Homo sapiens: one gene and its partners. The protein of the gene in region 4 purifies or fractionates together with the protein of the main gene of each other region. This does not show direct contact. Each region holds a gene or a part of one and is shown on either strand. Other genes may lie near its edges.

Region 1 (7,623 bases), on a different chromosome or scaffold from region 4:
CTTCAAGTCCACACAAGTTTTAAGAAATCCTACACCAACAGTTCTTCTCCCATTTCTAATTATTTAACATGTTAGGTCAGAAGCAAATTGTTTTACCTTAAGAGTTTCAAGTGTACCATCTTCTTTGGCAAGGACGCTGCCAGTGATTCCTAAAATGCTAACGACATTCACTCTAACCCCGACATTACTACTATGAATGCCTGCTTTGCATAATGTCATCAGCTGATCAGGAGTCATGCACTGTTAAAAGAGAAGAGGACAGTATTTATAATGTTAAACTCAATTAATTCTATCAGCATGTGAAAACCGGACTGACAGGAATCTCCTCTATAGGCTACAGGATTTTAAGAGTGACATAAACTCCTGGCAGGTAAGTTACTATTAATATGTATTCCAGTTCTCCCAGACAGAGCTGGTAATTCTGAACTAAGGTGAACCCTGCTCATGTCGGCACTGTTATCTAATATCAAAGGGGCTCCATTTAATTTGATGAAGACTTTCATTCCAGATGTACACACACTAAAGAGAGTCCAATTCCTTTTTAATATTAATGGTAAGAAAAAGGCTTTGAAAGTATAAATAGGATTGTGTGGTTTTAAAAAAATTGGCTGAGTCTATACAAGGTAAGAACTTACTTTGAGATATCTGTATTATCATAATTAAAGACTGTAGAAACCATTACATTATATGGTGCTTCTACCATGTAGTGGATAATTTTCAGTTTAAGGCTGGGCGCGGTGGCTCACGCCTGCAATCTCAGCTACTCAGGAGGCTGAGGCACAAGAAACGCTTGAACCTGGGAGACAGAGGTTGCAGTGAGCTGAGATTGTGCCACTGAACTCTAGCCTGGGCAACAGAGTGAGACTATCTCCTATAAGCAGCAGCACAGTGTAGTGATGAAAGGCTTGGAATCTGGAGCCAGACACAAAGGCTTGGAATCTGGAGATTGAACCCTGGGTTCAAATCCTAGCTTCACTACTTATCACTCGTGTGAGCCCCTACACTAGACTAATGTATTTTTATTTTTTGTAGACATGAAGTCTCACAAAGTTGCCCAGGCTGTTCTTGAACTCTTGGGCTCAAGCAATCCTCCCGCCTCAGGCTCCCAAAGTGTTAGGATTATTAGTATGAGCCACTGCACCTGGCCCTGAACATGGGCTTTGAGTAATTTTCCTTAACCATCACACTGATCCCATAAGCTGCTGCTTACATACCAGGGGAAATCAATAAAAATACTTGATATTCCTATAGGCCCTAGAGTATAAGGTTTTCTGGTCCATCCAACAGCCACATGGCAGGCTATGCATCCCATTACCATTCCTACTTCTTAGAAACTGAGGGTCAAATTATGCTCTTCAAAAAAATTCTTAGCTTTGGAAAGCTGAGGCAAGAGGATCACTCGAGAGCAGGAGTTTAAGACCAGGCTGGGCAACATAGCAAGACCTCATCTCTATTAAAAAACTAAAAAATAAAAATAAAGTATAAAAAAATTTTAAAAGCATTAAGAAAAAAATTATATAAAGAAGCAAAAAGAAATAGTGTTATTGGCAATAACAAGAGCATTGTTATTTTGATACTATTAAGTACATTCCGTAGGATAAAGCAAATAATAGTTTTAATGTCACTACAATTTTAATGTTACTACAGCAAACAATTTTAATATCACTGTATAGCAAATAATTTTAATGTCTTTTAATGTCACTACTACAAAGTACATTCTGTAGGAGAAAGCAAATAATAAAATTTTTGAAAAATATTTTTCTTTCTTTTCTCTAATTTTAATTTTTAAATTATTTATTATTATTATTATTTTTGAAACGGAGTATCGCTCTGTCGCCCAGGCTGGATTACAGTGGCCCGATCTTGGCTCACTGCAAGCTCCGCCTCCTGGGTTCACACCATTCTTCTGCCTCAGTCTCCTGAGTAGCCAGAACTACAGGCACCCGCCACCACACCCGGCTAATTTTTTGTATTTTTTAATAGAGACGGGGTTTCACTGTGTTAGCCAGGATGGTCTTGATCTCCTGACCTTGTGATCCGCCCACCTCGGCCTCCAAAACTGCTGGGATTACAGGCGTGAGCCACCGTGCCCGACCTATTTATTATTATTTTTAAAGCCAGTCAAACTTAGCGTGGGGGGTTGTATACCAACTTCAGTGACACTAATGTTAATAAGTCCTGATAACCCACTACCATCAGACCAGCTGCAAATAAGAATTTTAATGTCACTAATGTATCTTTTTGGGTACAATGTACCTTTTTGGGTACAAATGTATCTTTTTGGGGGATACAAAAAGATAGAAATACAAAATCGAAAATTAAGTAAAAATATTGTACCATTTTTTATTTAAACTGGAAATTATCAGGATAAACTTACTATTTTTGTCTCCTAAAAAAATGCCTATTTCCTAGCTATTTCCACTAAAAAGACCTAGAAACAATGGCAACATGATAGCAATAAGCACTCCACAATTCACTTTCCCCACTAAAGAAATCAGAGCTTCTTGGAGAAGTAACTAATTCCAGGGTTTTTTTTTTTTTTTTTTGAGACGGAGTTTCACTCTTGTCACACTCTTGTCACCCAGGCTGGAGTGCAGTGCAATCTTGGCTCACTGCAACCTCCACCTCCTGGCTTCAAGCGATTCTCCTGCCTCAGCCTCCCAAGTAGCTGGGATTACAGGCGCGTGCCACCACACCCAGCTAATTTTTGAATTTTCAGTAGAGACGGAGTTTCGCCATGTGGGTCAGGCTGGTCTCAAACTCCTGACCTCAAGTGATCCGCCCACCTCAGCCTCCTAAAGTGTTGGGATTACAGGCATGAGCCACTGTGCCTGGCCAGATTCCAGGTTTTAAGCAAGAAAATTACAAATTGAACCTGGGACATCCTATGCCTGGAAGCAAAAGTGATCAAAAACCTAAAATTCTTGTAAAAGAGGCACAGGAGCCAATTTGAAGGGACTCCTACTATCCAAAGATGGGATGAATTTGGCAGCAAAAAGCATGACTATAATGGAATGAAATACAAATATATAAAAAACCCTGAGTTCAAAATGATACTAAAAAAAAAAAAATCACTGGTCACTTATAGAGATTGCTAGGATAGCTATTCTGAAAAAAAAAAAAATCATAGCTAATAAATGTAAAAAAAAAAAAAAGAAAAGACAAAATTAGGGTATCTCTATTCTGCAACCCACTAATGACATAATGGAGCCAGGCAACCACAATCACTGGTTATAAAACCATTATGTGAACCCACTAATTAATCTCAGCATCACTATTTTATAATATCATATGATTTGTGATATAAATATAGGAAATATATAAAGCACTATAAATTATTCTTGCCAAAAAATCTGGACCTGTCTAGATTATTTATTATAAATACAAAAAATAAATAAATAAATAATCTGGACCTGGATCTAATTAAGGCTCTAGACCTAGCTCCCGGCTCACAGGAAACATGGGGGACAGAGGAATGCTGAACGATGCCATCATGATGAGTTGGCCAAATCTGCCAGTGCAGAAAATGCTACGGAACAAAATGAGAGTTTCTTCAATGGGTAAGTGTATGGGGAAAGGAGGGGAGTGAGGGAAATGCTATAGACTAAGAGATTTAAGAATATGAGAATATACTAAAACCACTGAATTGTACACTTTAGTTACTTATTTTTGAGACAGAGTCTCCCTCTGTCGCCCAGGCTGGAGTGCAGTGGTGCAATCTCAGCTCACTGCAACCTCCACCTCCCAGTTCAAGCAATTCTCCCTGCCTCAGCCTTCCAAGTAGCTGGGATTACAGGTGCCTGCCACCATGCCCGGCTGATTTTTGTATTTTTTGTAGAGATAGGGTTTCGCCACGTTGGCCAGGCTGATCTTGAACTCCAGACCTTACGTGGTCCACTGGCCTTGGCCTCCCAAAGTGCTGGGATTACAGGCGTGAGCCACTGCAGCTGGCCTGAACTGTATACTTTAAATGGATAAACTGCATGGTATGTGAATCAAATCTCAGTAAAATTTTTTTTAGAGATAATAAGAGACCAAAATATCAACCAAAAGCAACACATGAACCTTGCTTAGATCCTGATTTGAACAAGCCAACTGTTAAAAGACGTTTTTTTCTTTTTCTGTTTTTTTTTTTTTTTTTTTTTGAGACGGAGTCTTGCTCTATCGCCTAGGCTGGAGTGCAGTGGCATGATCTTGGCTCACTGCAACTTCCGCCTCCCAGGTTCAAGTGATTCTCCTGCCACAGCCTCCCAAGTAGCTGGGATTATAGGAGTGCGCCACCATGCCCAGCTAACTTTTGTATTTTTAGTAGAGACGGGGTTTCACCATGTTGGCCAGGCTGGTCTTGACTTCCTGACCTCAGGTGATCTGCCCGCCTCAGCCTCCCAAAGTGCTGGGATTACAGGTGTGAGCCACCGTGCCTGGCCATGTTAAAATACATTTTTAAGGCAATCTGGGAAAACTGAACTTAGACTGCAGCTGGGAAAACTGAACTCAGAGTGCAAACCAAAGGATAATAAGAAATATCCGTTAATTTGGAGCCTTGGGGTAATGGTACTGGGGTTAAGATTTTTAAAAATTTATTTTTCTGTCAGACATGCATACTGAACTACATAATAAAATATTGATGGGTCTAATATGATTTGCTTTAAAATACTCCAGGAAACAAAAATAAGGACCCAGTGAGATGAATGAAACCATGTCACAAGAATGACAGGACGCTAATAACCTGCTGAGGCTTGGCGACGGTGCATGCAGGCTCATAGGGTTATCTCTGCTTTGGACATGGTAGCGCACACCTGTAATCCCAGCTACTTGGGAGGCTGAGGTGGGAGGATTGAATCCAGGAGACTAGCCTGGGCAACACAGTAAGACCCCGTCTCAAAAAACAAAGCAACATTATTATCTCTGCTTTTAGGAATGTTTAAAAGTCTCCTTAGTAAAAAGTAGCAAAAGTGGTAAGGCACCTATGGGAGATGAAGTGCACATGGATTGCTGTGAAGGGTCAGGAGGGCATGCTTGCAAAGTCTGTAATGAAATGTTAAAAAAAAAAAAAAAAAAAAAGCTGGGTACGGTGGTTCACGCCTGTCATCCCAGCACTTTAGGAGGCCAAGGTGGGTGGATCACTTGAGGTCAGGCATTTAAGACCAGCCTGGCCACACGGCAAAACCCCGTCTCTACTAAAAATACAAAAATTTTGTGGTGACGCATGCCTGTAATCCCATTTACTTGGGTGGCTGAGGCACGAGAATCACTTGAACCCAGGAGGCAGAGGTTGCAGTGAGCTGAGATCATGCCACTGCACTCCAGCCTGGGCGACAGAGGAAGACTCTGTCTCAAAAAAAAAAAAGATTTAAAAAAAAGACCAATGATAGAGAAATTATTTACAACATATCTATCAATTAAGTTGTATTGATTAAAAAGCACTTGTTTTGCTAGTAAGCCTATATATTAAAAAATTTAAAAAATTAAATTAAAAGCACCTGTGTGTTGCTGATGGTAGGGAGCAGAAAGATATTACTTTTTATTTTAATCACTTTTGTTTTATTTTTTACAAAGATCACATATTATTCTTGTAACAGAAATATGTATTTTTTAAAATAGTGAAGTAATGAATTTTGCCTCCATAATACACAATCTTTACAAGTTTCATACAAAAAATTTTAAAACTCTTACCTGGGAAATGTTCTTGGAGGCCATTGTTTGCAAAAGGGCCCTCAAAGCACTACTTATGGCTTCTAGAAAGTCAACATGTTTAGCAAAATCTAAAACACAAAAATGAAATATAAAATTTGCATTTCTCCAAGATAGGCTATTTTGTAGAAGCAACAAACAAAACAAAGCATGCTAAATGTTAATAAATGCTATTCTTAATAAAACAAACAAACAAAAAAAAACCCTCGATATTTAAGCCAAAATATTTAGTTAACAGCCCCCTGTACACTCTATACCTAAGTCTGAAAGATGATCGTGGTTAAAATAATCACAGCAAGGAGGTGTTCTACAGACAGTCCTTGACTTCCAGACACTGGGTTTTCATTTGACTCACACTTCAGCACATAATAAACCTAAGCTAGCTTTTGCAGACTGAATTCTGTCATTCATAGATCTCCATCAGGGTGCTGGGTAGAACTACCTTTGGTGGAGTCAGAATGCTTCCTTGCCAACCCAAGCCCACTGCTTAGCCACACACTGTTGCTTGTGCAGAGCCAGGACATGATGGCACCATCACTTTAACTGACCCAGCATCCCCTTCCCACTCCTACTCCTTATTCGCACACTTTTCTTATTGTCCCTTCTTCCCACACGGGACAAACAGAACACCAGCAGTAAGCCATTATGCTGGCACAGGCACGTGCAAGGGACAGTGAGGGTCACCCAGGGGAGTTGGCTCCTTAACCTCTTTGATGGGAAGAGATTTGCTTGGTGTGGTAGACTGTATTTTCTAAAAATGGCCATGGCAATATTTCAAGTCCTGTGTGATCTTCAAGAACCTTGCCACTTCCCATAAAGATGTGAAATCTACTTCTCCTTTCCTTAAATCAGGGTGGGACTTTGTGACTTCTTCAACCAACAGAATACAAAGTGACGGGCTAGGTCACAAAAGGCAGTATGACTTCCAGCCCTGACGCATGTGTGCATGCTCTTTTTTCTCTCGACTTCCGCCCTGGGAACCCAGCCATCCTGTTATGAGGAAGCCTGCGTCACATGAAGAGGTCACTGTGGGTGTTCTTCCTGACAACCCCTGCACCAACTGCCAGACACGTGAGTGAACAAGACTTCGGATGATTCCAGCCCATACTCTGCGAGTCTTCCAGCAGAGGCCCTAGACTAGTATTTCTCAGCCTCTGCACTACTGACATTTTGGACCAGATAATTCTTCATTTTATGTGTGCGCAGGGGTCTCCTGGGCACCGTAGGATGTGAAGGAACATTCCTGGCCTCAACCCTCTAGACACCAGTTGCAATTTCCAAGTTGTAAAACCAAAAATACCTCCAGACGTTGCCAAATGTCCCCAGGTGGGAGGTGGGAGGGGATAAGTGGCCATGGTTGAGAACCACTGGCCTAGACATTGTGGAATAGGAAAAAGCCATCTCCACTGTGCCCTGTCTAAATTCTTGACCAAAGGAAACTTCGAGAAATAATAAATGATTGTTGTTGTTGTTAAGTCACAGAGTTTTGGAATAACTTGTTACGTAGCAATAGATACACTCACTTCCTGCCCCACAGTTCCTGGGACTTATACCATTCCGATCCCCCACTTTTAGGTTACCCGGGTAGAAGAGAGGCAGCTTCTGTTCAAATTCTAATCCCGGCTGATTGTATTTTTTGGCTCTTTCATTTTCAGATATGTATTATGTACCAAAATAGGGGATTTCCCGTAATGATCACAGAATAATAGGAGAGCTTTACACACTCAGCCCTAGGATAGAGAGCTGCCTTTGACATAATTATGTGACTCCTCCTGCCTTCATTTTAGTCTTGGCTCAAATGTTACCTCCTCACAGAGGCCTTTCCACACTAACTGGCCTAGTGTAACGCCTCATATCATTCTGCTTTTACTTTTTTCTTCATAGCTAATATCACATAAAACATTTATTTATACTAGAATGCAAACTCCA
Region 2 (7,623 bases), on a different chromosome or scaffold from region 4:
ACCTGGGTTTCTCTTGTTCCTCAGTACAGTACGATGATTTATGATTTCTAAGCCTGAGAATTTCGGAAGCCACTGAACATGAAAAGAGTGAAAAATCTTCTAAGTCAAGAGAAAGAAAGGAGATAACTTGGTAGGACAGTGTGCTCTTCTCTCAGACTCTGAAACACTACTCTGAAAGCTGTCACGAGTACGCATCGCATGGGCCTTTGCAGACAAAAAGGATTATTTTATCCAGATTATTCCCCCACATTGCAGGGGAAAAGGGACTCATTTGTAATCATCAAAGGAATGCTGACAGACTTGAAATGGGATTACACTCTATTATACTCATCCGAATTAAAGATTTGTTTTGGAGATCATTCTTAGGTTTCTTCCTCTCTGCTCCTCCAGCCCCAGATGAGGTGATTTGTATTCACAGGGCATCAGAGGCAGACATGAAATCAGACTGTTCACAAACATACATTTCAGACTCCGTGGCCTGAGTTTTGAATTTTAATGTTGCCTGGTTTTCTGCGTGTGGAAAACTTGGCTCTCAGATTGAAACGAACCCTAAGCATCACTTCATCCAAGCATCATTTCATTCTCTAACTTGTTAGTGCAGGAGAAATTCATTTCCAGAGGCTTGAGTGAGCAAATGATACAGGTGTCGGAGAGAACATAAGGATGAGAAATTCATGTAAGGAAATGTAAAATCTATGCATAGCCAGAGTCATCTAGTAGGTCTGTGAACATACTTCCAAACACTCAGTTCCAAGCTCTGTGGTTTGCTTACTAGTTTTTGGAGAATGTGACCTGCCAAATCGATTGCTCATCCCTCAAACTCCTCTGTAATGTGTGTGTCCATGAACCCACTAAGAAGCAAGCTTCCCCAGGGAAGGAATGATTTTTTGGAGTAGGTTGTACCATATCTAGCACAGCATCTGGTACCTGAGAGGCTTTAGACTGTTTCCCATTCTTCCCTACAGAATTTCTAGTGTGTGGTCACCATGAAACTGAGGCTCACCTGTGGAGGAGCCTTGAGTATCTCAGGGTGGAAGTTATAGTCCTTGGAAGAGCTCAAGTGGGTCAAGAAAGTGTCTCATGACTTTTGCTATCAAAAGAGTGAAATATATTACAGAACATCCCTCTCAATACAAAAAGATTATACTCCCTCAGCAGGAAGACAGAGCAAGGAATGTGGATAAAGTGCATTCAAAGTTGTACCATTTCTTTGTCCACCATTTTTTTTTTTTTTTTTTTTTTTTTTGAGACAGAGTCTCACTCTGCTGCCCAGGCTGGAGTGCAGTGGCATGATCTTGGCTCACTGCAACTTCCACCTCCCATGTTCAAGCGATTCTCCTGCCTCAGCCTCGTGAGTAGCTGGGATTACAGATGTGCACCACCATGCCCAGCTAATTTTTGTATTTTTAGTACAGACATGGTTTCACCAAGTTGGCCAGGCTGGTCCCGAACTCCTGACCTCAAGTGATCTGCCTCGGCCTTCCAAAGTGCTGGGATTACAGATGTGAGCCACTGCACCTGACCCCTTTAATAGTTCTTTTAGTAAAGATTCATTAGCGGTAAATTTGTCTTTCCTTCACACACTCTTGAAAAGCAGTTAAGCTGGGTATATAATTCAGGACTGATGGTTGTTTTTTGTTTGTTTGTTTCTCAGAACCTGGAAAATATTATTTCGCTGTCTATGGCTCCCACTGTTTTTGTAGCAAAGACTTTATAGATAACATTTCCTTTACTATCTGATTGCTTTTAAGACTGTCACTTTGTCTTTAGTATTTTACAGTTTCAGTATGACACATTCAGGTATAAATTTATTTTATTTATCTTCCTTGGAATGCTTAACTCTGAATCTTTCATCAATCCTTAAAAATTAATCCTAGGACACCATCACTTTGAGTGTTGCCTCTCTCTCCTTTTCCCTACTTTCTTTTTCTGGAATACTGATCAGATGTATATTCAACCATCATTCCATCCTCCATGTCTTATGACTTTTCTTCCATGTTTTCCATATGTTTACCTGTTTTGCTTCATTCCGGATAATTTCTCCAGCTTTTTTTTCCACCTCACTGTTTCTCTCTTCAGCTATACCTAATCTGCTCTTCAACCTACCCATCAGGCTTTTCATGTCAATGAATATATTTTTCATGTTAGTAGATATCTTTGATTCTTTTACAAATACACCTGTTTTTTCTCGATAGCCTTTTGTTCCTTTCTCATGTTTTAGATTCCTTCTTAAATTTCTTTTTAGATTCCCTCTTTTTTTTTTTTTTTTTTTGAGACAGGGTCTTGCTCTGTTGCCCAGGCTGGAGTGCAGTGGCACAGTCTCAGCTCACTGCAACCTCCACCTCCCAGGTTCCAGTGATTCTCATGTCGCAGCCTTCCAACTAGCTGGGATTACAGGCACCCGCCACCACACCCAGCTAATTTTTGTATTTTTTAGTAGAGACAGGGCTTCGCCATGTTGGCCAGGCTGGTCTTGAACTCCTGACCTCAGGTGATCCACCCACGTCGGCCTCCCAAAGTGCTGGGATTACAGGCATGAGCCACCATGCCCAGACCTAGATTCTCTCTTTTATTACTTAAGAACCGTGTCATTGCTGCTGACTACTGCTCATATAATGTAATTTTGAATTGTGTGATCATAATCAGCAGCATTTTAGCTATAGGAATCTATAGATGGGCCTATATTGATGATATTCCCATGAAGGCAGTATCTGTGTGTTTGTTTTTGCCAGGTATCATGGGACAACTTTATTAGTTTCTCAACTTGGGTTTCCCAGTAAAGGTAATATGAATTCAAAACCCAGACTCTCCAAAAGGCAGAATTTTGATTACACCATCTCAAGAGACATTATTTTTTTCTCCAATCCTGAACCTAGGCTATGACAAGTTTCCTTGTCATCTTTCTTTACAAGAAGGCTGATTTGTTTTACATCCACCTTTTAATGAAGGCTTAGGTTTTCAAAGTCCTGGCTTTATATAGAGGTCTTTATTCTAATTCCTCACTATACAGTGGTCTCACTCCTTATCGCCTGCGCTCAGGCACCTGTTAAATCTTCGTTGTCAAGACCATCAAGCAACTCCAACGTAGCCATAGGGTTAGCACCAGCTATCATCCCTAGTTCTCTATTCTCTCTTCATTTTTGTTTCCTCACCACTCATTTATACATTAAAAGATTTTTCTTATATTTTATTCAGCATTTCTAGGTGTTTTGTTGGGGAAATAGTTTCAGAACACCAATTTCCAGAAACAAATTACAGACCCAATTCTATAATCAGTTCTTTGAGGCTAGATGGTACTATCTTTAAACAGGACAAGGAATGGACATTACTTATGTAAGTCCTGGGAAAGATTTGGCTCTAGGAAATGAAGAGATAAACATGACAGAAGTGCCACTGCTTTAAACTGCATGTAATTTATTTTGTTTTATTCCCTTGGTATTAGAAAGGCTACCTGGATTCAAATCCCCAAAAGTTACTAAATTGCTCTTTGCCTCAGTTTCTTGAACTTTTTATACTAGCATCTCCTTTATAGCTACAACTGGGAGGATTAAATGAGTTAACATGAAGTTCTTTGAACAGTGTCTGGCATAGAGTGCTTTATGTGCTTAATAAATTATTTTTAGGGCCAGGCACAGTGGCTCACTCCTGTAATCCCAGCACTTTGGGAGGCCAGGGCGGGTGGCTCTCTTGAGTCCAGGAGTTTGAGACCAGCCTGGGCAACATAGTGAGACCCTGTCTCTACAAAAAAAAAATGCCAAAAAAAATTAGCTAGGCCTGCTGGCATGTGACTATAGTCCCAACTACTAGGGAGTGCTGAGGTGGGAGGATGGCTTGAGCCCCAGAGGTTGAGGCTGCAGTGAGCCGTGATTGCACCACTGTATTCCAGCCTGGGTGACAGAGCAAGACCCTATCTCAAAAGTAAAAGATAATTTTTTTTCTTTTTTCTTGAGACAGGGTCTCGCTCTATTGCCCAGGCTGGAGTGTGGTGGCATGATCTTGGCTCACTGCAACCTCCGCTTCCCAGGCTCAAGCAATTCTCCTGCCTCAGCCTCCCGAGTGGCTGGGATTACAGGCGCCCACCACCATGCCTGGCTAATTTTTGTATTTTAAGTAGAGACAGGTTTCACCCTATGGGCCAGGCTGTAAAAATTTTTTAAAACCCTAAAAGTATTTTTAACTCACCAACTTTTTTACTCATACTGAGGGAAACCAAGTAAAGAAGTTACTGCCTCTGCTGAGCCGGTGGTGCACACATGGGAGCCAACTAAAGGGGTGGCAGAACGAGATACCCCAAGGGGCAAGGGGAAACTCAGAAGACACCAGAATCACTTGGTCAGCTGCCTTTCCAACCCAAGATTCTTTTTCCAGTACTAAAATCTTCATGACTGTAGGATTTAGGATTTATGTTATTATGAGAAACCATTTCCTTACAGAAGGATACAAATATACCAGCCTCATTAAAATAGTGACAAAGTATCATAAAACTTCAGACCTCCCCCCAGCCCCCACCCCCGCTCCCACCTTCTTGGTCCATTGCTCAGCTTCAGTGACAGTATGTTTTTTTGTTTGTTTGTTTGTTTTTGTTTTTTGTTTGTTTTTGTTTTTACAGGAACTCGCTCTGTCACCCAGGCTGAAGTGCAGAAGCACGATTTCGGCTCACTGCAACCTTCACCTCCTGGGTTCAAGTGATTCTCCTGCCTCAGTCTCCCGAGTAGCTGGGATTACAGGAGCATGCCACTATGCCCAGCTAATTTTTGTATTTTTAGTACAGATGGGGTTTCACCATTTTGGCCAGGCTGGTCTCAAACTCCTGACCTCAAATGATTCACCTGCCTCGGCCTCCCAAAGTGTTGGGATTACAGGCGTGAGCCACAGTGCCCGGCCATCAGTATGGATATTTAAAACCCAATAGGTACTGGGTTCAAATCCTGCTTCTAAATTTTATTAGCAGCTGTGGAGCTGGGGAGAGCAGTACGCAAGTCAGGCAATAGGGGTGGGTAACGAGGGAGCAATTGTTCTCTCATAGTACATTACCCTCAAAGTGGTGCCTCACTAAGAATTTTAAAGATATTAAGCCAACAGGATGGCTGTGAAGATCAGTGACCTCCAAATTTTTTTAACTCATGAACTCATCTACGCAACAAACCTTCCCATGCACCCCCAAACCTAAAATAAAAGTTTTAAAAAATAATTATTATTACTGGCAGAAACAATTATAAAAAACATTATGAACAGAAACATTTTGAGAACACATCTCCAATATATGCACACTTATTTATAAATTACATGTTGTTCTGTCAATTTATATGTTAATTATAAGCAAAACTTAACTCCTTTTTTTATTAAGATGGAAAACCAATAGGCAAGAACAGAAGTTCTGACATGTTTTTCCTACCCCACTGGACCACTTTGTGAGTGCACCCACTTTGGAAGGACTGTGATGAAATGATGCTGATGGGAGGGTAGGAAAAGGTCAGTCTATTCAGAAGGTAACCAAAATGGCAGCAATGACCCCATGAACTTTCAAGAAAGGTTAGGCAAATTGTGGTACTTTTTTTTTCTGGCCTTGCTCCTCCCTACCCCCAACACCCTTGCAGGCGAAGTCCCCAGCCTGGCCCCATCCCTGTACTCTGGCCAGCCCTGGTGCTGGAGCCTGCCTCAGCTCTGCTCCCTAGCTGGGTGGTCTTGGGCAACTTTGTTACCCTCTCTGAGGCTGAGTTCTCATCTGCAAATGAGACTGGTCCTGATCTCACAGAGTTGCTACGAGGATGAAATCAGATAAAACTGAGTTCAATTAACTTTTACCCTCTTCCTTTCTGTTTCTTCCCTGAAACTGCTGCTAGGCTCCCCTTTCCAATAAAGCACCTGGGAGACCAAAGCCATCAATAACAGGGACCACTTGTGGGCCGAGACTCTTCTCTGCCATAAAAAGAGCCGGCAGAAAACTTTTCAGATGTAGTCACTTTCCATGGAAACAGATGAGCAGATTCAGACACTGGCTATTCATCTCTCTTCTTCTGTGGCCTCTAGACAACTCCTTCGGACATTTGGTTTGTTTTTCTTTAGTTACGAGCTGGCTTTTCACTCCATAAATTTTTTTAAAGTAAAGATAAATCTTGAATAAAAAGGATGATGTGACTGAGGCATCATGAAATGCAGAGGGAAGGGTGTGTGCATGCGTGTGTTTGCATGGCTGTGCATGCACAGGTGTCTGTGTTGCGAGGTGCTGATATGCTGGGGAAATACAGTCCTGGTCTCCCTGGTGATGAGCCCTAGGGTAGGGGGTGAAGGGGACACCCAGCCACACTCTGTGCCCTTGGATGACCTGATGCATGGGCAGAAGGTCACCCTCCCCTCTGAACTCCAGAGGTGTCCTCAACTCTAGCTGCATATTAGAATTGCCTGGGGAGCTTTCAAAAAGAGATCAGTGACTGGCTCTCCCAGGGCCAATTACATCAGAAGTCTTGGGGTGCAGCCTGAATGTCCATAGATATTTTTTTAGTCTCCCCAGGAGATTTTATTGTGCTGCCAGGACTGAGACCCAATGCTTATCTGAAAGCAAATAACAGGGTTCAACCTCTCCAAAATGAACAACTGTGTCCATCAATACTGAGTTCCCACCTCAAGGCCCCCGGGATCAATTGAATTACCATATTTCTATACCCTGGAATTCCTGGCCAGTGAAATAAAGAGCTATCAGTCAGGTTTATTTATTGGGCTGCAAATGATCTAAGTTTTGGCTGAACTGCATCCCACTAAAATTCAAACATTGGAGTCTAATCTCTAGCACTTCAGACTATGATAGTATTTGGAGACAGGGCCTTTAAATAGGTGACTACATGAAAATGAGATCATTTGAAGGAGTCTAGTCCAATATGACTGATATCCTTGTAAGAAGAGGAGGTTAGGACACAGACACACATGGAGGGAAGACCATGTGAAGATACAGCAGGGAGATGCCATTTACAAGCCAAGGAGACAGGCCTCACAAGAAATCAACTCTGCCAAGACCTTGATCTTGAACTTCTAGCCTCCAGAACTGTGATAAAATAAATGTTCCTTGTGTAAGCCACCCAGTCTGTAGTACACTGTTATGGCAGCCCTAGCAAATTAATACAATCTGGTACCAAGTACCACTTAATGCTCACTTGGGCTACCAATGGCAGGGACTGGAACACTGGCCCAGGCCAGGTGGGGTGGTGCACACCTGTAATCCTAGCTACTCAGGAGGCTAAGGGAGGAGGATCGGTTAAGGCCATGAGTTTGAGGCTGCAGTGCACTATAACTGCACCTGCAAATAGCCACTGCACTCGGGCCTGGGCAGCAGAGCATGACTCCATTAAAAAACAACAACAACACTTCTATTATAGAGTGACCTTTGTTTGAGGTCTGGGGACATTTGGGTACAAGGAAGGCCTTAAAGACTGCCCCACTCTCCTTGTTTCCCATCCCCTGTCCCTTCTACTTCTCACATTCACCACTATGTGCCCTAGGACAAAATCAAATGTGGAAACATTTGGTCATGTCTACTTTGTCCAAGGGTGGGAGTTCTTGAGGAATTCAAGTGGGAACTAGAACAACTTTCTACCCTTTCCTTCCCTTCCTTCCTCCCCACCTCTACCT
Region 3 (7,623 bases), on a different chromosome or scaffold from region 4:
TCTGGAAGCCTGAGGCAGGAGGATCATTTAAGCCCAGGGGTTCAAGATCAGCCTGGGCAACATAGCAAGACCTTGTCTCTATAAGAAATATAAATAAATTAGCCAAGAGTGGTGTTGCATGCCTGTAGTCCCATCCCAGCTACCTGGGAGGATCACTTGAGCCCAGGTGGTCGTAGCTGCAGTGAGCCATGATGGCGCCACTGCAATCCAGCCTGGGCAATGGAGTGAGACCCTGTCTCCAAAAAAAAAAAACATAAGGCACCGCTGTCAGGAATCCAGGAGTGCGTTAATCCAGTCATCCCTCCTACCCCAAAACAATGGCAAATAGGAGATAAGGACTACTCTTTCACTAAATTGGCCAGAGCCCTGTACTTTCGTATATGTCTCTCTGATCAGCAGTGTTGGAGCACAGAGCCTAGCCTAAAGGCCTCTGCAGGCTTTTACCTTCCTCTAAGTCCAAATCTGAACTTTGGGCTGTCTCCTTCCTCTAGAGCAGGGATTCCCCAACCCCCAGGCCGTGGACCGGTACAAGTCCATGGCCTGTTAGAAACCAGGCCACACAGCAGGAGGTGAGCTGCGTGTGAGCAAGCAAAGCTTCATCTATATTTATAGCTGCTCCTCATCGCTCACATTGCTGCCTGAGCTCCGCCTCTTGTCTTATCCGTGGTGGCATTAGACGTTCATAGGAGCACAAACCCTATTGTGAACTGCATATGTGAGGGATCTAGGTTGTGTGCTCCTTAGGAGAAGCTGATGCCTGATGATCTGTCACTGTCATCCATCAACCCCAGATAGGGCTGTCTAGTTGCAGGAAAACAAACTCAGGGCTCCCACTGACTCTACATTATGGTGGATTGTATAATTATTTCATTATATATTACAATGTAATAATAATATAAATAAAGTGCACAATAAATGTAATGCACATGAATTATCCCAAAACCATCTCCTACAAGCCCAGTTCATGGAAAAATTGTCTTCCATGAAACTGGTCCCTGGTGCCAAAACGGTTGGGGACCACTGCTCGACAGAGTTGGTCAGATGCACAGGAAAGTAAAGCAATAACTAACATGCTTAGGAGGCCCACATGTGAGGAGAGAAGCGTGATGGCTGGTCATGAGGGCACTGGCCCACCAGCTGCTAGAAGCAGAAGAGGGCTGGGTGTGGTGGCTCACGCCTGTAATCCCAGCACTTTGGGAGGCCAAGGCGGTGGATCAACTGAGGTCAGGAGTTCGAGACCAGCCTGACCAATATGGCGAAACCCTGTCTCTACTAAAAATACAAAAATTAGCCGGGCACGGTGGCATGTGCCTGTAGTCCCAGCTACTCAGGAGGCTGAGACAGGAGAATTGCTTGAACCTGGGAGGCAGAGGTTGCAGTGAGCCAAGATCATGCCATTGCACTCTAGCCTGGGTAACACAGCAAAACTCCCTCTCAAAAAAAAAAAAAAAAAAAAAAGAAGAAGCCGAAAAAAGAAGCAGAAGAGGAGGCCTCCCATGAGGGCACTGTCTTTTCTGCCTTTGAACACACAGAATGTGTTCATCTAGTAATGAATGTACCCTAGTCTGTGCCTTAGAATATGAGCAATTAGATTAGCAATTGTCTAGAGGCCTGTGAGGAGAGGGGAGGAGGAAGTAAGAGAGAACTGGGGAGATAGGCAGAGACCTTTTCTCTAAAATAAGAACTAGAGGCTGGGTGCAGTGACTCACGCCTGTTATCTCAACACTTCAGGAAGCCAAGACTGGCGGATGACTTGAGGTCAGGAGTTTGAGACCAGCCTGGCCAACATGGCGAAACCCTGTCTCCACTAAAAATACAAAAATTAGTCAGGGCTGGTGGCGCATGCCTGTAATTCCAGCTACTTGGGAGGTTGAGGCATGAGAATCCCTTGAACCCAGGAGGCAGAGTTGCAGTGAGCGGAGATCGCACCATGGCACTCCAGCCTGGGTGACAGAGTGAGACTCTGTCACAAAAAAGTAATTAACGGAATAAAATAAGAACCAGAGTTTGCAGCAATAAGCCAAAAGGGACAGAAGCACTGATCAAGCCCAGGAGGAAACAGGACAGGAGAAGGTCAGGGGGAGATGATGGTATAGAAAGGAGACAGGGGTTCTTCTGTCTCTTAGAAAAGATGGATGAAGTAGAAAAACATACTGAGCTGAGGCCACCCTTGAAGTCAACTCTACAACAGTTCTTCAGGTATTTGAAAGCAATAAACACATTTTTTTTGGATTTCCTTATCTCTAGAATAAATATTCTCATCTGGACCCACTCCTGTTGGCTAATATTCATCTTAAGGTAGAGCTCATGTCTTAACATCAAGTTCCAGTTGTGGCATAGAATTGGGCAAGACAAAACATCACTTTTTCTGGCCACAGTGAACTGATGACTACGTCTTTGTTAGATTGACGGTTTGGTGGTTTATTTTATTTTATTTTTTTAATTTTTATTTTTTGAGATAAGGTCTCACTCTTGTCATCCAGGCTGGAGTGCCGCAGTGGCTTAATCATGGCTCACTGCAGCCTCAAACTCCTGGGCTCAAGTGATCCTCCTACCTCAGCCTCCTGAGTAGCTAGGACTACAGGTGCATGCCACACCCAGCTAATCATTTTTAATTTTTGTAGAGACAAGATCTCGCCATGTTGCCCAGGCTGGTCTCAAACTCCTGGGTTCAAACGATCCTCTCACCTTGGCCTCCCAAAGTGCTGGGATTACAGGCATGAGCCACCCACCATGCCTGGCCTGCTCTTGGATATCTCAGCCTTTTCTTTTGGTCCATCCTATCTTAGAACGAGCCTTATGATGCCAAGCTCTTACTCTTCTTTTGAGTTTTAGAATTAGGTTAGACTCTGAGTGACAGGAAAAAAAATAGTAGCTTAATTAGGATAGAAATGTATTTCTCTCTCATGTTCTGGGCTTATATGGCTCGCCATGGTGTCCTTAATCCCACCTAGCTGTTAGAATAGTTAGTGTTGGCAGCCAGGCAGCCTGTGCTTAGCTAAAGTTAGGAATCCTGCTACTAAGGAGGAAGCGGGGAACAGATATTGGGAATTAGGCAACAACCTCCGCCACCTTCTCTATGCCAGAACCTGGCCACCTTTCTCTCCCTTGTGGTGGAAGTCACTGGTCAGCCTTAATGCTGGTCTCCACTGAGCTTCAAGCTTTGGGTATACTGGCTCTGAAACTCAGCACTGGGTGAGGTATCCTGTGTTCCTGCTAGTTGGGGCCTTATGGACAAGATATGGAGGGGAGTAGTCCCTCACGGCCCTAAGAGGCCCCAGGCCATCTCTGTGCAGCCACTGAGTGAGGAGGGTCTGCTTTGGACTTTGCAGAACTTATTGAAAGCGCAATGTACCTCTACCGTGCCACGGGGGATCCCACCCTCCTAGAACTCGGAAGAGATGCTGTGGAATCCATTGAAAAAATCAGCAAGGTGGAGTGCGGATTTGCAACAGTAAGTGTTTGCATGGCCCCAAGAACTGGGAAGAGTCTCCCCTTGCTGCTAAAAAGCCTCTTTAAGGGTAGAGCTTTGGGAGTTCTGACATATCAGCACTAGAAGGGACCTTGGAGATATACATAATGCTCATATTTTACAGATGGGGAGACCAAAGAACAGAGAAGCTAAGTGCCTTGCTAAAGATCTCACAGCTAGTAGAGGTAGAGCTAGAATTAGTTCCTTGGGATCTTGACCCCGGCCCTTGGCATTCCTCCCACAGTGGAGATCTTTGATCTGTTTGAATAGGTGACTTTGAAAAGGTGAGTTTAGCGAAAAGTTTTGTGAGACACTAAAATAGATTTTAAGGGGAATCCAGAGTCCCATAGCCCTATATTCAAACCTGGGACTCCTTAACAAAGCAGTCCTGCTTAGTCTCACAGATATTTCTTGAATGTCTTTCACATGCCAGGCACTCTGCTAGGCCCAAGGGTTACAGCAGTGGCCTTGCTCTCATGGAGCTTACATTTTAATGAGAAAAAAACCATGAATGTGTATCTGGTAGACAGAAGGCCAGTGTGGCTGGAGCGGAGCAAGCAAGGAGAAAAGTGGGAAGAGATAAGGTCCCAGAGGTAGGCAGGGGCTAGATCATGTAGGGTTTTGTGTAAGCCACAGGAAAGAGTTTGGGTTTTTTTTTCTACTTGGAATGTGAACCCTTGGTAGGATTTACAGCAGAGCAGTGACATGATCTGATTTGTATTTTAGAAAGATCGCTTTGGCTGCTTTGTGAAGAATAGATTGAAAGGGTCAAAGGTGAGAGCCATCTCACATCCATGCAGGAACCAAGCAGGCAAGATATAAATATGAAAGTAGAAGAAAATAGTCTGGAAGAAAATCCCCTGAAAAGCCTACAGTGTTGGGGTATGGAATTCAAAACAACAACAAAACACTTATTTTGCAAAAGTTTGTAATGTGATTATATTCTATAAGTAAAATATAGATATGTGTAGGGGAAGAGAGAAGACCTACATGTGGAAGGGAAAAAATAAACCCCTGATATGATTTGGTTTCTAATATGCTGTATTGTGTGAAAAACCAAAATGATAAGCCCACTGGGGCCTTCCTAGGAATGCTGGGCTCATTTCCATGAACATGAAGCCCTTTGGAGGTCTTCCATGGTGAATGATGGGAACAGGGGTCTGACCTTTCTCAAACAGGGCAAGGAAATAATCATCTTGATACATCAAGACCATATTTGAGTCATATTTTTAAATGTAAGATAGAGTCCACTGAGAATGTTTTGTTTAGAAGTATTACTAATTCTGAGAAGCTAAAATAAATGTTTGTAGCAAGTAATCTTAGTCATCCATGCCTGAAAACTCAGTTGAAATTCTCTAAATAAGACTCCTTACTAAAACAATGTCAATAGTTTTCATCAACAGCAGTTGAACCTAGTAAGTGTCGATACTTTGGGTCTGAGTGGAGAAAAAAAGACCCCTTATTAGTTGCTTACAAAAACTTGGTAATTGGCCAAGCGCAGTGGCTCAGGCTTGTAATCCCGGCACTTTGGGAGGCCAAGGCAGGCGGATCACGAGGTCAGGAGTTCAAGACCAGCCTGACCAACATGGTGAAACCCTGTCTCTACTAAAAATACAAAAAAAATTACCTGGGTGTGGTGGCATGTGCCTGTAGTCCCAGCTACTCTGGAGGCTGAGGCAGGAGAATTGCTTGAACCCGGGAGGCAGAGGTTGCAGTGAGCCGAGACCATGCCATTGCACTCCAGCCTGGGCAACAGAGTGAAACTCCATCTCTAAAAAAAAAAAAACTTGGTAATCATCTGAATGCCCTTCCAAGGAGGATTAGCCAAGTAAATGGTGATCCATTTTCACGATGGAATACTCTGCCATCATTAAAAGGGACGATTAGCTCTATGTTTATAGTCACAAAAAGTTGGGATAAAGGGGATAGGAGATTGTCATGTCATAGAGCAAGGTTAGCGGAGACCTTTCTGGTGAGGAAGCATTTGAGCAGAGACCTGAAGGAAGGGAGGGAACAAGCTATGAGAAAAACTGGAGGCGGAGTGCTCCAGGCTGAAAGAACCACAGATGCAAAGAGCCCGAAGCAGGAGGGTGCTGTGCTAGCTCAGGACAGAAAGGCAGCAGCTGGAGCTCTTAGAGTGGTAAGAGGTGAGGGCAGGAAGGGAGCAGGGGCCAGGTCATGACTTGCATTTTTATCCTGCATGAAATGGAGGGCTCACAGAAAGTTGTGAGTAGAGAATTGACAGGAAGACTTATGTTATACAGATACTGTAGGAGCTTGGTGTGTGTCTCACGCCTGTTATCCTGGCACTTTGGGAGGCCAAGGTAGGAGGAATTGCTTGAGCCCAGGGATTTGAGACCAGCCTGGGCAACATGGTGTGAGACCCTGTCCCTATTTTTTAAAATAGTGTGTGTATATAAACTGCAGGGCTAAGATTGGAAGCTGGGAGCCCATTTGGAAGCTTATGTGATAATCCAGGTGAGAGATGATGGTGGCTTGGGAAAGAGTGAAGTTCTGAAAAGTTCAGTGATTTGCTCACAGGCCCTCAGCTGCTTTGTGGCAGAACAGGCCTTCTTAAGGGATTGCCTGACCCTTACTACTAAATTGTGATGGTGTTCCAGCTTGCTTCCTTCTCCCACATGTCAGATCAAAGATCTGCGAGACCACAAGCTGGACAACCGCATGGAGTCGTTCTTCCTGGCCGAGACTGTGAAATACCTCTACCTCCTGTTTGACCCAACCAACTTCATCCACAACAATGGGTCCACCTTCGACGCGGTGATCACCCCCTATGGGGAGTGCATCCTGGGGGCTGGGGGGTACATCTTCAACACAGAAGCTCACCCCATCGACCCTGCCGCCCTGCACTGCTGCCAGAGGCTGAAGGAAGAGCAGTGGGAGGTGGAGGACTTGATGAGGGAATTCTACTCTCTCAAACGGAGCAGGTCGAAATTTCAGAAAAACACTGTTAGTTCGGGGCCATGGGAACCTCCAGCAAGGCCAGGAACACTCTTCTCACCAGAAAACCATGACCAGGCAAGGGAGAGGAAGCCTGCCAAACAGAAGGTCCCACTTCTCAGCTGCCCCAGTCAGCCCTTCACCTCCAAGTTGGCATTACTGGGACAGGTTTTCCTAGACTCCTCATAACCACTGGATAATTTTTTTATTTTTATTTTTTTGAGGCTAAACTATAATAAATTGCTTTTGGCTATCATATTTTGGTTATCATGTTTTACATATTGGGCTGTCTCATGAGATTTCATTCAAAGAAAGGATTGGTGGCTACGGGCAATTGTGACTCTAGTTAATTTTCTCATGCAGCTGGAGAGACGGCTAAATGCGGTTAGCTGGCTCCAAAGATCCTAGGGGTCGATAGTTGAATCTCCCTTCCTTTTCTGGTGTCTTTGTGGAAAGTGTTGTCATAAATGTATTTCTTTGTTAGTTCTTGCTCCAACATGTGCTTCTTACTTTTTTTTTTTTTTTTTTTTTTTTGAGACAGAGTCTCACTCAGTCACCCAGGCTGGAGTGCAGTGGTGTGATCTCGGCTCACTACAACCTCTGCCTCCCAGGTTCAAGCAATTCTCCAGCTTCAGCCTCCTGAGTAACTGGGACTATAGGCGTGCATCTGGCTACACCGCATCTGGCTAATTTTTTTATTTTTATTTTTATTTTTTGTATTTTTAGTAGAGATGAGGTTTCACCATGTTGCCTAGGCTGGTCTCGAACTCCTGACGTCAGGTGATCCACCCGCCTCGGCCTCCCAAAGTGCTGGGATTATGGGCGTGAGCCACCATGCCCCGGCTGCTTCTTACTCTTTAGTTGACCTATCTATCCACCTGTCCTTCCAAGCAACGAAGATTTATTAAGCACCTTTTTTCTTTTGAGACAGGGTCTCCCTCTGTCACCCAGGTTGGAATGTAGTGGCATGATCACGACTCACTGCAGCCTCGACCTCCCAGGCTCAAGTGATCCTCCCATCTCAGCCTCTGGAGTAGCTGGGACCACAGGCACACACCACTATAATTTGCCTGATTTTTAAAAATTTTTTTGCAGAGACGGTGTCTCCCTATGTTGCCCAGGCTGATCTCAAACTCCTGGGCTCAAACAATCCCCTGCCTCAGCCTCCTGATTAACTGGGATTTCAGGCGTGA
Region 4 (6,593 bases):
AGATTCTCTCTCACATATTTGGTTCCTACTAAATGCCTCTGGGCTACTCCATGTTTTAATCTTCACAGCAGTTCCATGGGGAGGCAGTCCCATTTCACAGGTGAGGTAAACTGTTCAGAGGTGAAGCCACTTACCCAAGATCACACCACCAGTGGATGGTAGAACCAGGATTTGGACCCTGATCTGTCTGAGTTCAAAGCTGTTGCTCTTTGCCTCAGATCTGGGCAGGGGACTGTTGCTGAGGACTGCCCAGCCTACAGAGTTGGGAGGGCACTTACAGGAGAAGGCCTCTGAGACAGGTTCAGACAAGGCAACAGTCTTCCACTGGACGGTCTGCCAGTTAGGAGTGTAGATATGTTTAGAGAGAAATGGCAACTTCTGGCTTTAACATTTATTACAAAGATAAGAGCAGAGGCTGGTGAGTTACACTTCTTCCTCCCCACCAGGTGCTCTCTGCAGCTCTGGAAAAATGGTGTCCTCTTTGTTGTCCCACCAGGGGGCGCCACCTCCAGCCCCGCCCCAGCCTCATACCCAGTTCTTCAGCTCGGCCAGCGGTAACTGAAGCCTCCCAGAATCCTGGATCCGGGCCCCTAGTACCCTCTTTCCCAGGGACCCAGGAGTCCTGCCTCCAGTCGCCTGCACTTGTAACTGAGAGCTGGAGGTCGTCCATAGCAGCATAGTGAGAGTGTTTTTGATGAGGGTATGCAGAGTGGGGGTGACCATGTTCCCACCTGGGGCCTCAGGTGGGCCAAGGCCTACCCACTTTAGCCAGCGTCCCCTCCAGCAGCCATCAGCAAGCCAACCCACTCCAAGCCAGGGCCCCCTTTGGTCCTTGCACTTGAGGTGCTTTGTTCAGGGCTGGGTCAGGAGTGGCAGAGACGATGTCCACCACCTCAGTACTGGGGAAAGTAGCCTGGTTCCTCCTCGTGGGTCCTGGAGAGACAGAGAGACTGATGGAGAGGCAGGCCAGGAAGAGGGAGAGTGAGAGTGGGACACACCGAGGTGCAGACAGAAACCGGTGGGCAGAAGTGGGAGACAGGGGGCAGGTGTTTCCGGGCCCCGAGGCCAGGGGGCAGGAGGGCATTTAGACAGAGACATTGGATGGACAGCCAGACAATGTGCCCAGGACAGGCAGAGAGAGAGAGAGAGACCAAGCAAAGAGGGAGAAGGCCATCAAGGGTCAGTGAAGGGGAGAGGGTACACCATCTTCCTTCACTGCCAGTCCAGCCCCGAACTGAGTCCTTTCCTCCAGACAGTGCCAGAGCTGATGAGAAAAGGCGGCCTTGTCTCCCAGCCATCCCCCGCCCCCTTAGCCACATAGGGTGCTGGCCACAGGAACCCTTCCTCCAGGATGCCTTCCTGCCCAAGTCCCAGCCCCCTCACCAGCTACTTGGACTGCTGGCTGGGTTCTGGAAGCTGCCTCGGCCCCAGGGCAGTGCTAAGCAGCTCAGTCAGGGCATCCAGCTTCCCCGCCAGCGTGTCAATCTGTTTCTCCAGGGCCCGGTGTGAGCTGCTCAGATTCTGCTGCAGGTCATACAGGATCATGTGCATCTGGGTGGGAGGAGAGGATCAGAGGTGTCGGGGCTGGGGTCGACCCCCACCTACTCCATAGCGTAAGGCAATGGAACCAATATTGACCACATCCTTATGGTCCTCTGAGGATTACCCTCGACAATAACTGTTACCATGTATTGACCACCTACCACTTCCCAGCTACCTGCCCAGGTGTTTCCCTATATGGTTTAAAATCCTCCCAAAAGCCACAGGGAGTGGGAATCCTGTTCCTGTCTTACAGCTGAGGAAACAGGCATGGAACAGTTAAATGACATGCCCAAAGCAGCTCCTGAAATAAGACCTAGAACATAGCAGGTGCTCATTAGATATTTCTAGCATGGATGATGCCTGACTTCCAAATCCACATAGTCTTTTACTGCATTCTCTGGCTAGGATTCACTAGTTGATCCCTGAGGGTTTGTGGATTTTCTATGGAAATTCTTGAATTCTGTGTTTTTGGCTTGATAACCTTCAGAAATTACCACCTGCCAATTCCTGCAGATCTGGGCCACTGCCTCGTCACTGAGACCTGCCATGCGGTTTTGGGGCCTGCATCTGTGACCGTGCTTACCATGGCATTGCTGCCAGGGGCCACTGTTTGAACTGTCGTGGGCTAACGAGAAAAAGCAAAGGCCACCAGATAAGCAGAAGATGCTGTGAGCCAGGCCAAGGGGGTGTTGTGACATCATTGTCCCTAAGCACTGGCGAAATCAAATGGTCTCAGCAGAAGAAGGGGGCGGGTAGCTGAGTCACGCCTTGGCCAGGCAAACTTGCATGGACGTCCCTGTTGCCCTGAGTACCCCTCCACAAGAGCAGCAGAGATTGAGTTTTACGGAAACAATGTCACCTGTGTCCTTGTCAGTGTTGTTCATTTTAATTGTATTGGTTTTGCCGTCTATGGGCTTGGTTTGTAAATTTGCTTTGGTTTTATTGTATGAGCTGTAGTTGGAAGGAATTTTATATCCGTCCACATGTAAGTAACTTAACAATAAAGATAATTTGAAACCAAACACTGGGGTTCTTTGTGCAATTTTTTTTTTTTCAGTTTGTAAGGGATCTGTGCCTTTCATGAATGTAAGAAGCTCTGTGTTGCATCATTCATTCCTTCCTTCCTTCATTCAACCACAGACCTTTACTGACAGGCTGTGTGTGCCAGGCCCCTGCCAAGGTTCCCTGTTCTAGGGCCAGATTTCCCTCCCTGTGGCCCCAACCTCCCCCTTCTTCAAGACCTCCTCCCACGGGATCCTAGTACCTTGGAGATGTCCACCATGGAGTTCACTTGTTCCCGGAGCTTCCGGTGTTTCAGCCGCACCTGGCGGAACCTGTGGGAAGAAGTGGGGAGTCAGTTTTACAAGCCTGGTCCCTGAATGTAGCTGTAGCTCAGGGGAGGAATGAAGGGAGGAGAGGCACATGAAGAAACAAAACAAAGAAACAAAGTTGTCGAAGAGCTGAAAGAGTGGGAGGGGATGCACCCTGCCTCCCCACGAGCCCCCATCCCCAGTAGAAACCCAGGTACCCAGGTCCGCAGACACACCGAGATATGCGGAGACAAACCAGCACAGACACATAGAGTCATGCACGGTCAGATCCAGGTGAGACCTGGATGTTGAGTGAGACCACACCTGGGTGTCCTGACCTGGACAGGCATGGACATGCACACACACAGCCGTGCAGAGAGGTGACTTGGACATGGGTGCACATGGACACGTGTGCATACAAAGCGGCCCTCACGCGTTGATGGCGGCCAGCAGCTTGCGCTGATGCCTGCGGGCAGCATGAGACTCCTTCCTGCGAGTATGTTTGTAGAACATCCAGGCTTCTTGTAGCACTCGGGCAGCGGACTCCTTCATCTGGGGGTGGGTGGCACAGTGTCCGTGGAGATAGACCCTTACGGTTCTGGGAAGGCAGGGCTAGGGCTGGGACTCTTGGGTCCTAGGGGAAGCAGGGGCGCCTGGACTCCTGCTTCTTGGAAGAGGGGTGTCCCATGGGTGCCATATGCCCATCTCACCTCTTTGGTATACTGGATATCCATCATGAAGTTGTGCACGTGCTTCTCTGCCTTGTTAAACTCCAGCTTCCGGGCCACCACGGCCACCAGCAGGGCTGTGCAGCAGACACCCTGTGGGCACAGCAGGCACCGTGGCATGAGGCTGTGCCACCGACTCCCTCCTTGAACCCGCCCAACAGCCACAGACGGTAGGCACGACCATCCCCAGTTAGCAGACAAGCAAAGAGGCTCAGAGAGGAGAGCCAAGGTCCCAGCTCAGAGCGGTGGAGCTAGAATCATAAATCGCATACGTCCGAGCCCAAATTTGATGCATAGCATTCACACCCTCAGGGTGGCCTCTTGAATGAAGGATAGGATTGGAGGAGTGAGAGGAAGGCTGGGTTCTGAGCCAGGGGCAGGCCTCTGGGTCCTCAGTGCTCATGTGGTCAGCCATTGCACTGTGGAGGGCGACCATCCTTCTCCCACTCCCACAACTTCTTCCTAGCTCCAGCCCTGTCTTCTCTCTCCTGGACCGTCTCCAGCCTCCCACTCATCCTCCCCTAACCCCCTTGGTCCCCTCTAATCTCCCAGGCTTCCACTGGCCTGAACGTCTCAGCCTGGCTCCCAAGGCCTTCCAAGGTCTATGCCTCCCACCTGGACAACTCAGCCCTGGCTCCATGCTGCCTGCCCTCCCTGAGCACCTTCCTCCGAACACTCATTCTCCTCCCTTCCTTCTCCCAATGCTCCTGGCCCTTCAAGGCCTTGGCAATTCCTAGCTGCTTGTGGCATCTGCTCACCTGTCCCCAAGTTAGAAGGAATCTTCCTAGGAAGCATCCCCAACCCTATAGTTTCAGCTCTTGATCACTCAGAACAACTTCCAGTCACAAACGCTGGCTCCAGGGGACTGCCTGGGTTCCAAGCCCAGCTCTGAGCAAGTTATTTAATCTCTCAGTATTTCAGTGTCTCATCTGTGAAATGGCCTCACAGGGTTACTAGGTGGATTTCATGAATTACCCCTGGCAAGTGTGTAGGGCAGAGACTGGCACAGAGTATGTGCTCCGGAAAAGTAAGCTTTTATGGCCCAACCATGCCATGGAGCCTTTCTTCCAGGAGCAGGCTGTGAGCTCAAGTGCACATCACCCTATCTCTCTAGGTTTCTGTTTCTCCTTTTGTCAAATGAGGGAGGAGGTCCTGAGCGGTGCTGCAGGTCCCTAACTGAGTCTCTGCCCCTCTTCCCTTGCTCCAAAGACTCACCACTGGGGGAGTGGAGGTCACCACATCCTTCACCTGTGCACCTAGGGATTGGGGGATGAATATGTCCTTCCTAGGCCCACATCTGGGCTAGGTGCTGGTGGCTTAGGTCCCCGAGGGTGAGGGGAACCCGATCTTGTAGGGAGGTGAAGGCCAAGGCATTAGGTGCTAGTCTCTAGAGGGGGCCAGGGCTGGGTGGGAGGACCTGAGTGACTGGGTCTATGGAGGGAAGGAGGTGGATGTCAGGGTTCAGGAAGAGGCTGACTCAGGCTGCAGAGCCTCTGCCTCATCCTTGAGGGCAACAGGAGCTGGTGTGGGGTGGCTGGATGCCTGGCCACCCCTAGACCTGTTTACTGAGCACCTCCTGTGGGCTGGGCACTGTTGGAAGCACTTTACGTAGTTGGACCCATTTAATCATCTCAGCAAGCCCATGAGGAGCATCAGCATCCCCATTTTATAGATGAGGAAAGTGAGGCCCCGAGAGATCACGTGGCTCGCCTGAGCTCCCCAGCCAGGAAGTGGCAGCCGCAGGATTCGGACCCAGGTAGCCTGGCCCCACAGGTATGCACTTGATAACTGGACTCTACACCCTTGATGGAGGCTGGGAGACGATTTCCCAGTTCTGGAAGAAAATGGGGCTGCGAAGTCAGGAGCCTGGGTCCCTGAGGAGGATAAGGGCTGGGGCCCTAGGTTCTAGAGAGAGCAAGGACTTAGGGGCTGGATTCCTAGGTCTGATTTTTTATTTTATTTTTTAAGAGACAGGGTCTCACTCTGCCACCCAGGCTGGAGTGCAGCAGTATGATCATAGCTCACTGTACCCTCAAACTCTTGGGCTCAAGTGATCCTCCCACCTTGGCCTCCCAAAATATTGGGATTACAGGTGAGTATCTTGTTCTTGAAGAGAGAATGGGGCTCTGGGGGCCCCAGACACTCAAGTTTCTCAGGAGCTGTCCCTGAGAGCCTGTGTTGAACCCATTTAATCATGGCTTCCTGGGGCCAGAGGATGACCAGTTTGGGATAGGGATCATGTCCCCAAGGCAGCTGTACTCACCATGACTCCAGTGCACAGGCAGACGATCTTGCCCCACATGGTGCCCGGCACCACGTCACCATAGCCGATGGTCAGGAATGTGATGGGGATCAGCCAAAGTGTGTCTGAAAGGTGCCCAGTGGCATTAACAGCCTGCCTATGGGGAAGGGTAGGTTAGTTCTAAAACCCCACCATAGAGGTTTCCATGATATTCACTCCCCTTCCCTCTATACCCTCCCATCCCCTTCCCTCTGGTTCCCTCCCTTCCCCTCCCAGTATACACCCATAGTCCTAAGAATCACCTGGACAAAAAGCCATTAAGTTCTGAGCTTTGGAAAGCCTGCATGGCCTCCTCTCTGCTGTGTGACCTGGGCAAGTTGCTTAGCCACTCTGGGATTTGAGACTGGGTCTGGCCAATCCCAATGCCGGTATGGTCTCAGCTAGGCTACCCGGGCTGCTGTAGCATTCAGAGCGTGTGGTTGAGGGTGGAGAGTCGATAGGGGGCCAAAACCCAGTCAGACCCTGACTGGTGGCTACATCCACCCAGAGGAAGGGGTATATTTTTCTAATTTCCACAAAGATGCTGTGTGGTCCAGAAGTGGCCCTATCAGGACCAAAAAGGACTCTAAAAAGGCTTGGTGGGACTCGGCCTTCCTTTCCTCTCACTTCACAGAGGAGACATTTAAGTCCAGCCATGGAAGGGGTTGAAACATTGAGATTTGTCTAACTTTGTCCACAGGCCCCTTGCCGCAAGACCAGCAGGGAAAGCTT

What was found.
Region 1: the proteins of KCNN4 (region 4) and HEATR3 purify together in Homo sapiens (co-immunoprecipitation; one large-scale study listed by IntAct). This does not show direct contact.
Region 2: the proteins of KCNN4 (region 4) and EVA1C purify together in Homo sapiens (co-immunoprecipitation; one large-scale study listed by IntAct). This does not show direct contact.
Region 3: the proteins of KCNN4 (region 4) and EDEM2 purify together in Homo sapiens (co-immunoprecipitation; one large-scale study listed by IntAct). This does not show direct contact.

What each region holds. Positions count from the first base shown.
Region 1 is NC_000016.10:50,092,847-50,100,469, reverse strand, and holds part of HEATR3 (HEAT repeat-containing protein 3), read right to left. Parts: intron 5,766-7,623; coding exon 5,677-5,765; intron 241-5,676; coding exon 97-240; intron 1-96. UniProt on the Homo sapiens protein: Plays a role in ribosome biogenesis and in nuclear import of the 60S ribosomal protein L5/large ribosomal subunit protein uL18 (RPL5). Required for proper erythrocyte maturation.
Region 2 is NC_000021.9:32,416,694-32,424,316, reverse strand, and holds part of EVA1C (protein eva-1 homolog C isoform 1 precursor), read right to left. Parts: intron 4,495-7,623; exon of another isoform or gene 1-4,494. UniProt on the Homo sapiens protein: Binds heparin.
Region 3 is NC_000020.11:35,114,429-35,122,051, reverse strand, and holds the end of EDEM2 (ER degradation-enhancing alpha-mannosidase-like protein 2 isoform 1 precursor), read left to right. Parts: intron 1-3,332; coding exon 3,333-3,454; intron 3,455-4,844; exon of another isoform or gene 4,845-4,916; intron 4,917-6,118; coding exon 6,119-6,619; 3' UTR 6,620-6,688; downstream 6,689-7,623. Other genes in the region: MMP24-AS1-EDEM2 (ER degradation-enhancing alpha-mannosidase-like protein 2), read left to right, coding at 3,333-3,454, 6,119-6,619. UniProt on the Homo sapiens protein: Involved in the endoplasmic reticulum-associated degradation (ERAD) pathway that targets misfolded glycoproteins for degradation in an N-glycan-dependent manner.
Region 4 is NC_000019.10:43,766,157-43,772,749, forward strand, and holds the end of KCNN4 (intermediate conductance calcium-activated potassium channel protein 4), read right to left. Parts: intron 5,980-6,593; coding exon 5,844-5,979; intron 3,674-5,843; coding exon 3,563-3,673; intron 3,405-3,562; coding exon 3,286-3,404; intron 2,877-3,285; coding exon 2,807-2,876; intron 1,552-2,806; coding exon 1,387-1,551; 3' UTR 1,384-1,386; intron 934-1,383; 3' UTR 377-933; downstream 1-376. UniProt on the Homo sapiens protein: Intermediate conductance calcium-activated potassium channel that mediates the voltage-independent transmembrane transfer of potassium across the cell membrane through a constitutive interaction with calmodulin which binds the intracellular calcium allowing its opening.